Linked DNA regions of Homo sapiens: region 2 is linked to region 1. The links come from fine-mapping of genetic effects on gene expression. A gene starts in region 1. The other region holds a variant in brackets. All regions are shown on one strand. Distances are between the middles of the regions.

Region 1 (4,391 bases):
ACCCTTCATAGCACCTATCACCATTTCATATAATCCATATTTATTTACATAATGTATATCAGATTGCATTTTCCAAGATGGCCACAAGATTTCCCTTTCCGCACACTTTCTTACAATGTGACATTTCCACTATTCCCGTTGAGAGATGGGGATCTATGCTCTCCATCCTGTAACTGTAATGGAAGTAACACTATATGACCTCTGAGACTAGGTCACGATCTCTGTCTGGTCCTTTTGGGGCACTCAGTCTTGGAACTCAGCCACTATGATATGAGGAAGCCCAGGCTACATGGAGAAGCCACTTGTAAATGGTCTGCCAACAACCCCAGCTGCGGTCCAAGCCAACAGTCAACCTCAACTTCCAGACATGTAAGGAAGCTTTTGAGATTACTTCAGCCCTAGCCACTGCATACGAGACTCCCAAGTGAGAACTGTTTAGCTGAGCCTAATTACCTCCCAGAACCATGAGAGGTAATGAAATTGTTGTTTTAAGCCACTAAGTTCGGGGTCATTTGTTATTTAACAATAGACAATAGAACAATTTGTTTATGTGTATATTTTATGTCTCTTTCCTTCTAGAGTATAAATCCCACAGATTCAGGTATTTGTTGTTGTTGTTGCTGCTGTATTCCCAGCACCTAAAACAGTGCCTAGTACATGTGCTCAATAATTTTTTTTTTTTTTTTGAGACAGGATCTTGCTCTGTCCCTCCCAGGCTAGAGTGCAAGTAGTGTCATCATAGCTCACTGCAGTCTCAAACTCCTGGCCTCAAGTGATCCTCCCAAGTCTTCCAAGTATCTAGGAATACCACAACCAGCTAATGAAAAAAATTTTTTGGGGCCAGGCACGGTGGCTCACGCCTGTAATCCCAGCGCTTTGGGAGGCGGAGGCGGGCAGATCACGAGGTCAGGAGTTCGAGACCAGCCTGCTTGGTGAAACCCCGTCTCTACTAAAAACAGAAAAAATTAGCCAGGCATCGTGGCGCACGCCTGTAGTCCCAGCTACTCAGGAGGCTGAGGCAGGAGAATTGCACCCAGCAGGCGGAGGTTGCAGTGAGCCGAGATCGCGCCACTTCACTCCAGCCTGGGGGAGAGAGCGAGACTCTGTTTAAAAAAAAAAAATTTTTTTTTGTAGAGATGGGATGTTGCTAAGTTGCCCAGGCTGCCCTCAGACTGCTGTGATCCTCCTCCCTTGGCCTTCCAAAGTGTTGGGATTACAGGTGTTAGCCACCATGCCCAGCCCCCAATAAATATTCATTGAATGAATGAATGGATGCATGATCCATTTTCAATAAAGCATGCTAACAGTTACTGGTCAACGGTATATGGCATAGTCTGCGCTAGATCTCATTGGCTGGGAGAATAAATTGACAGGGCATGGGGAAATATGTTGGAATTTTTCAAAGGTTAATAACGTAATATACATAATGTAAATATAACATATATAATGAATTATACTAATTACACGACAGTATAAAATAGGATTTGAGTTTCATGTAGTCTTTTGGTGATTGATCCCATAATCCTAATATGGGCTTCTCCAGATCAGGTCTGGAAAGTCTTCAGAAGTATTTTCAGAAGGATTTAGTGATTCTTCTCATTCAAATAATGAAGTCCTTCCTAAGCATCCTACACTAGTGGAAATCACTCACATGGTTTTGGTATGAAATGGAATGAAACTGGGTGGTGGCAGTGTGTGTATGTGTATGCACATGTGCACACTCACACGGGCAGGTGCATACAATTTGGAATGCCTACTTCCACTGCCTATTTTCAGTCTGGTGGTTTGAATGGAGTGTGTATATAAAGAGCACAAATAAACATAGTTCTGGATTTCCCCTTTCTGCACCAAGTACCTTGATTTCACATTTGGTTTGAAGCAAATATTTGTGTATTGCTTAAATAGCAAACATTTTCAAATATTCAAGGAAAATATTACATTTTTATAATCTCAGAAGGCAATAAAGGACAAAATTTCTTAGCTACCTGAAAAGAGGTAGTTTTTGTCTGGGGAAGAATAAACAGGTGGATGGTCGTTTGAGTGGACTAACCAATTTCTTTGAGCCAACCCATCTCAGCCTTGATTGGAGCAAAAAGCATAAGGATGTGGAGTGTGTGTGGTTTCTTGGAACTGGGGATCTCTGCTGAATCTACTCACAATGGGAGCAAAGCAGTTTCCATCACAATAATCGCTTTAACAATCGTGTGCCACTTCTTTCCAGGATCCAGAAGGGCTTGAGGATCAAAATGGCTTTTAAAAGTTCTTCACTTAAACAAGGCCGCAGCCACAAGGTTACTTGGCCGAGTGTCTCTTGAGAAAGAGTGAGTGCCATTTTGTTCTTTGTTCCAATGACAGTTGTTGGTGCCACTGGGCCTCACCACCTGGCCTGTGTCATGAAGTCTCCCTCTTGACTGGGTCTAAGCCTTGAGTGGAAAGTGGGGGAGCCTCCCAACACTTCCTTGGAAACTCTTGGCAAGTAAATTGGGGAATATTTTCTTTGGAAGTCTCATTTTTCTCACCAAAATTTAGATATAGCTTCTGAAGCTAATTATTCTTTTTTCATTACAAAAAATGTTTTCCTTTATTTATTTATTTGCAGGCCCAGCCAAACTTGACTAGAAAAGAAGCCCGGGCAGGGGTTTGGATGAGCCCATGACGTGCAGCGCGCTCCGACCAATTGGGAGGCCGTGAAAAAGGGGAGGGCGGAAGTGACGAGCCGTATCCCTCCGCGGGGCGAGAGGGTCGGTGGGGGGAGTCGGCGTCTCTCTCCCCCGCGCCAGCTCCCGTACACGGAGCCGCATTCCTTGGCCCCCCCACCCCCCTCCCTCGGGGCCCCCCCGCCCCCCTCGGGAAAAAAATCCACCCCGAATCACTCGAACCCGAGGGAGGCTTCCTTTCACCCTTGGGGAGACGAGCTTTCAACGGTTACCTCTTCTTCGTCTCCCCCCAAGCCCCCGTCCCCTCCCCCTGCTCCCACCCCCTTCTGGCGCCGGGTGTAAGGTCCCTTTAAGGCGACGGCGCCTTCCTCGGGTCAGACTACCGGCGGCGACGACCACAGGAGGTGAGTGAGCGAGCGAGCCTTCTCTCTCCCCACCCCCTGCTCCCGGGGGTTCCGTTATCTTTTCGCTCGGCGAGGCGTTCAGAGGCGAGACAATGAGAGGGGGATGGGGCCGGTACGCGCGGGGGTGGGGGCGGGGGGCCGGCGGTGCGCGCCCCCGCCCACCGCGAGTGGCGGCGCGGCCCGCGGCAGGGGCGGCCGCGGGGTGCGGCGCGCGAGCGCGAGTGTGTGTGCGTGCGCCCCGGGCCGCGGGAGCCGCGCGAAGGGCCGGCGGCGGAGGTCCCTGCCTGCCGGCTGGCCGGCCGCCCCCGCCCCCCGGCGCCCGCCGCGGCGCGCGCGCGCGCACTCGCGCCCCACGGCCCCGCACACAGCCCGACGTCCACACGCACGCTCGGCGCGAGGCGTCTCGGAGGAGTGGGCGGCGCGGGCGCGGGCGGTGGCCCGCTGGGGAAGGGGCGGGGGCGGGGGCGCGGGCGGTGGCGAGACGGCGGGGCGCGGCGGGAGGGGCCGGCGAGGGGGCGAGGCCGTGCGGCGGAGGGGCGGGCGGCGGCGGAGCGGCCCCTGGGGGTGGGGGTGCGCGGCCCTCCCCGCCCCATTCCCGCTCCGAGAAGGAGTGGGGCGCTCGTTTTGAGCGGGAGGAGGAAAATGAGTGATTGCTGAGCCGATCCCTTGTGTTATGTAATCTCTGCTTGGTCTAATAGTACATCCTAAGCCTTAGTGCACTGCAGCTAGTTTACGAAGTCTCCTCCCTCGGTCCCCAAATTTCTTTTGGGATGGCGCCGTGATTTATAAAATGGAATGAGGCGGGGAATCTTTATTTTCTGGTGATTATGTCCTGCCGCGGTGGGCGCCATGTTTATCCCGGGGACTATTTTATTTAGATTCTTGGCACCTTTTGCAAAGGAGTACTGTCATTGATCTATTTGTTTTCCGTCTTTCTGCGTGTTGTTCTTATTTCCTTCCTCTCCAGATGTGGGATTCTCTCAAACTGCTAGTAGCACTTGTCTTAGACATTCTTAGTTCAGAAAAAGGTAGTGCTGATGAGTCCTTAGAGTCATTTAGTGGCCAGTCTCATTTTCGAAATGGAAACTAAGATGCAGTTGGACTATCTCACAGCAGCCGCCGTCTTGATGCAAGCGGTGTAGCCCGTCCTTCCAAGCCCGTAGACACCTCTTACCGCCGCTCAAAACTCCACAGAAATGGGGTTTTACTTTTTTTTTTTTTTTTGAGACGAAGTTTCACTCTTGTCGCCCAGGCTGGTGTGCAGTGGCACGATCTCTGCTCACTGCAACCTCCGCCTGCCGGGTTCCAGTGATTCTCCTGCCTCAGCCTT
Region 2 (4,391 bases), 72 kb after region 1:
AAAATGCAGTATATTATTACAAAAGAATACTACAAGGTAGCTTAAAGGAAAGAACCTAACATATCAAACACATTGTTGAGTGAACCAGATAAACCACAGAATGACATATATGATATGGTACCATCTGCGCTAATTTAAACACACAAAACAACACTAAGAATGTGGGCAGGCGAGGGTGGGGGATGCGCGCGCATGTGTGTAAAATTGAGTCATAGTGGCAGTTGAAAATGAGTTTTATATAGTCTTACTTATAATGACACTCTGGGAAAAAAGTAAGGAACTTCTGAAACATTTTCCAGCAATAAAAAATAAATGAAAGCGGCCGGGCGTGGTGGCTCATGCTTGTAATCCCGGCACTTTGGGAGGCCAAGGCGGGCGGATCACGAGGTCAGGAGATCGAGACCATCCTGGCTAACACGGTGAAACCCCGTCTCTACTAAAAATACAAAAAATTAGTCGGCGTGGTGGCGGGCGCCTGTAATCCCAGCTACTCGGGAGGCTGGGGCAGGAGAATGGCGAGAACACGGGAGGCGGAGCTTGCAGTGAGCCGAGATCACGCCACTGCACTCCAGCCTGGGCGACAGAGCGAGACTCCGTCTCAAAATAAATAAATAAAAATAAATGAAATCTGCCAATTATAATGGAATTAAAGCAGGAAGTAGGCTTTCCTGGGGAAAGGGGAGGAAGGGAGTAACTTGGTCCCTGGAAAGGGAAATGGTGGGTTGAGAGAGGTTATAATACGATTTTAGATTTCAGCATTACTATAAAATTTTTTTTTGACAGATGAGTTCTCACTATGTTGCCCAAGCTGGAGAGCAGTGGCTATTCACAGGCAAGATCCTTATGCCACTACAAATGGCTTTGAGACTTTGAGAGAGACTCTGTTTGTTTGGAAGAAAATACAAGAAGAGAATAGGAATTTCTACCTGGTAATCCAGAGAATTATTTTGGCTCTTATTCAGGACCACCAAGGTGGTACTCTATGAGGCTGCAGGGACCACAGCATTACTGAGCTTGGGGTGCCGCCTAATGCAGAGACAGCTTAGATGACAACACCTAAGTCCCTTCAAATACCTGGAAAGCCTTCCCAAGAAGGACAGGTACGGCCGAGCGCGGTGGCTCACGCCTGTAATCCCAGCACTTTGGGAGGCTGAGGCGGACAGATCACGATGTCAGGAGTTCAAGACCACCCTGGCCAACATAGTGAAACCCCGTCTCTACTAAAAATAAAAAAATAAAAAAATTAGCCAGGCGTGGTGGCGGGCGCCTGTAGTCCCAGCTACTTGGGAGCCTGAGGCAGGAGAATCGTTTGAACCCAGAAGGTGGAGGTTGCAGTGAGCCGAGATTGCACCACTGCACTCCAGCCTGGGCTACCCAGCGAGACTTTGTCTCAAAAAATAAAATAAAATAAAATAATAATAATAATAATAATAATAATAATAATAATAATAAGGCTGGGCGTGGTGGCTCATGCCTGTAATTCCAGTATTTTGGTAGGCCGAGGTGGGCAGATCACCTGAGGTCAGGAGTTTGAGACCAGCCTGGCCAACATGGTGAAACTCCGTCTCTACTAAAAATACAAAAATTAGCCGGGCGTGGTGGCAGGTGCTTGTAATCCCAGCTACTTGGTAGGCTGAGGCAGGAGAATCGCTTGAACCTGGGAGGCAGAAGTTGCAGTGAGCCGAGATAGCGCCATTGCACTCCAGCCTGGGCAACAAGAGCAAAACTCTCCCAAATAAATAAATATACAAAGTAAAAATTACCCAACTTCACTCTTTTCCCAAGTAACCTTCATTTTTATCTTGTGTCTTTCTAGACTGTTTTTATCCACATGCAAACAGAATTATTTTTTGGAATGGAATCGTGTTATATACAGTTTGGCAGCCTGCTTTTTGCTCTCAAATGTCTTGGCCCTCCTCCCCTGTATAGTCTAC[T/C]TAACTTGTTGTAATTGCTTCACAATATTCCACAGCACAGATATATTATGAACTATTTAACCATTTTTTTTCTTTTTGAGACAGGGTCTCACTCTGTCACCCAGGCTGGAGTGTAGTGGTGCAATCCATGGCTCACTGCAGCCTCAACCTCCCGGGCTGAAGTGATCCTCCTGCCTCAGCCTACTGAGTAGCTGGGACCACAGGCTCGCATCACCATGCCTGGCTAATTTTTATTTATTTTATTTTATTTATTTATTTATTTATTTTTGAGATGGAGTTTCGCTCTTGTTGCTCAGGCCGGAATGCAATAGCGCGATCTCAGCTCATTGCAACCTTCGCCTCCCAGGTTCAAGCAATTCTCCTGCCTCAGCCTCCTGAGTAGCTGGGATTACAGGCATGCGCCACCACGCCCAGCTAATTTTGTATTTTTTAGTAGAGACGGGGTTTCTCCATGTTGGTCAGGCTGGTCTCAAACTCCTGATTCAGGTGATCCGCCCACCTCGGCCTCCCAAAGTGCTGGGATTACAGGTGTGAGCCACTGCACCTGGCCTATTTTATTTTATTTTTGAGACAGGGTCTGGCTCTGTTGGCCATGCTGCAGTGCAGTGGTGGGTCACGGCTCACTGCAGTCTCCGCCTCCCAGAGGTTCAAGCCATCCTCCCACTTCAGCCTCCCCAGTTCCTGGGACTACAGGCGCCCACCAGCCAGCTAATTTTTATATCTTTTGCAGACATGGAGTCTCACCATTTTTCTCAGGCTGGTCTCAAATTCCTGAGCTCAGGCAATCCGCCTCCCTCGACCTCCGAAGTGCTTTTTTTTTTTTTTTTTTTGAGACAGAGTTTTGCTGTGTCACCCAGGCTGGTGTGCAGTGGTGTGATCACAGTTCACTGCAGCCTCAATCTCCTGGGCTCAAGCAATCCTCCTTGCCCCAGCCTCCCAAGTAGCTGGGAGTACAGGTGTGCCACCATGCCAGACTAATTATTATTATTTTTTTTTAGTAGAGACAAGGTCTTGTTATGTTGCCCATGCTGGTCTCCAACTCCTAGGCTAAAGCGATCCTCCTGCCTTGGATTCCCAAAATGTTGGGATTACAGGTGTGAGCCACTGGATCTGGCCTAACCATTCTCTTATTAATGAAAAGTCTTCTGTTTCCACTATTACAAATAATGCTGCAATGACAGTTATTTTTGTATATTTATGCACCTAAGTAGTTCTATAAAATAGAATCCTACAAGAGTTGTATTTTCAGTCAAAAAGTATGACATCTCATATTTTAAAAGTTACTAACAGCATTGCCCTCAAACAAGGGCACTTCAATGCATATGCCATTAATAATGCATGAGGGCCCTTCTCTCTCACCTTTCCAACATGAGATACTATCAGCCTTTCTAACTTGTGCCCAACTAATAGGGCAGAAAAATTGTCTTGGTCTAAACTGGCTTGTTAATCTTGATTGTGCCTTCCCAATTCCATTTTTTGTGGTATCACAATGTTAGCTTGAAAACAGCTGTAGTGGGAGTATTTACACCACAGAAACTGGCAAATGCTACAAATTAAACACACACACATACAAACACACACAACACAGTAAGGAAGGAAATATAGGTAGAAATTCCTGTTCTCGGCTGGGTGCGGTGGGCCATGCCTGTAATCCCACCACTTTGGGAGGCCAACGCGGGTGGATCACCTGAGCTCAGGAGTTTGAGACCAGCCTGGCCAACATGGTGAAACCCCGTCTCTACCAAAAATACAAAAAAATTAAATGGGTGTGGTGGCAGGCACTTGTAATCCCAGCTACTTGGGAGGTTGAGCCAGGAGAATTGCTTGAACCCCGGGGTGGAGGTTGCAGTGAGCCCAGATCACACCCAGGCTGAGATCAGCCTGGGTGACAGAGCGAGACTCTGTCTCGAGAGGAAAAAATAAATAAATAAATAAATTACTGTTCTCATGTTTTAAATTAAACTTTGTATTTTGAGATAATTGTAGGTTCCCATGAAGTTGTAAGAAATAACAGAAAGATTGCCCTTTACACAGTTTCTCTCAATTGATAACATCTTGCAAAACTATAGTACATTATCACAACCAGGATATTGACATTGACACAGTCAAGATATAGAACATTTCCATCACTGCAAGGATCTCTTTTACAGCCACATGCACTTCCTTCCCAACCCCACACCCCCTTAACTCCTGTCAACCACTGTCTGTTCTCCATCTTTATAATGTTATCATTTCAAAAATGTCCTATAGCAATGGTCCCCAATCTTTTTGGCACCAGTGATGGGTTTCATGGAAGACAATTTTTTCACAGATGCGGGGGATGGGGTGTGGTTTTGGGATGAAATTGTTCCACCTCAGATCATCAGGCATTAGATTCTCATAAGGAGTGTACAACAAAGATCCCTCTCATGCACAGTTCACAATAGGGTTTGAGCTCCTATGAGAATCTCATGTGGC

What was found. PIP is the estimated chance that this variant, and not a neighbour inherited with it, causes the effect. A credible set is the group of variants that fine-mapping cannot tell apart.
Region 2: its variant is the best candidate, but not a certain one, in a credible set for the expression of POGZ in whole blood (INTERVAL, PIP 0.50).

The regions. Positions count from the first base shown.
Region 1 is chr1:151,457,822-151,462,212 of GRCh38, reverse strand. It overlaps POGZ (pogo transposable element derived with ZNF domain), which reads left to right and starts at 2,719. Exons shown (of 19, transcript NM_015100.4): 1 at 2,719-3,061. RefSeq lists an enhancer at 2,449-2,498 and silencers at 3,329-3,378, 3,569-3,618.
Region 2 is chr1:151,386,219-151,390,609 of GRCh38, reverse strand. No RefSeq gene overlaps it. Among named protein-coding and RNA genes, the nearest start is that of PSMB4, 11 kb to the left of the region's middle. The variant T/C (reference allele first, on the strand shown) is at 1,935.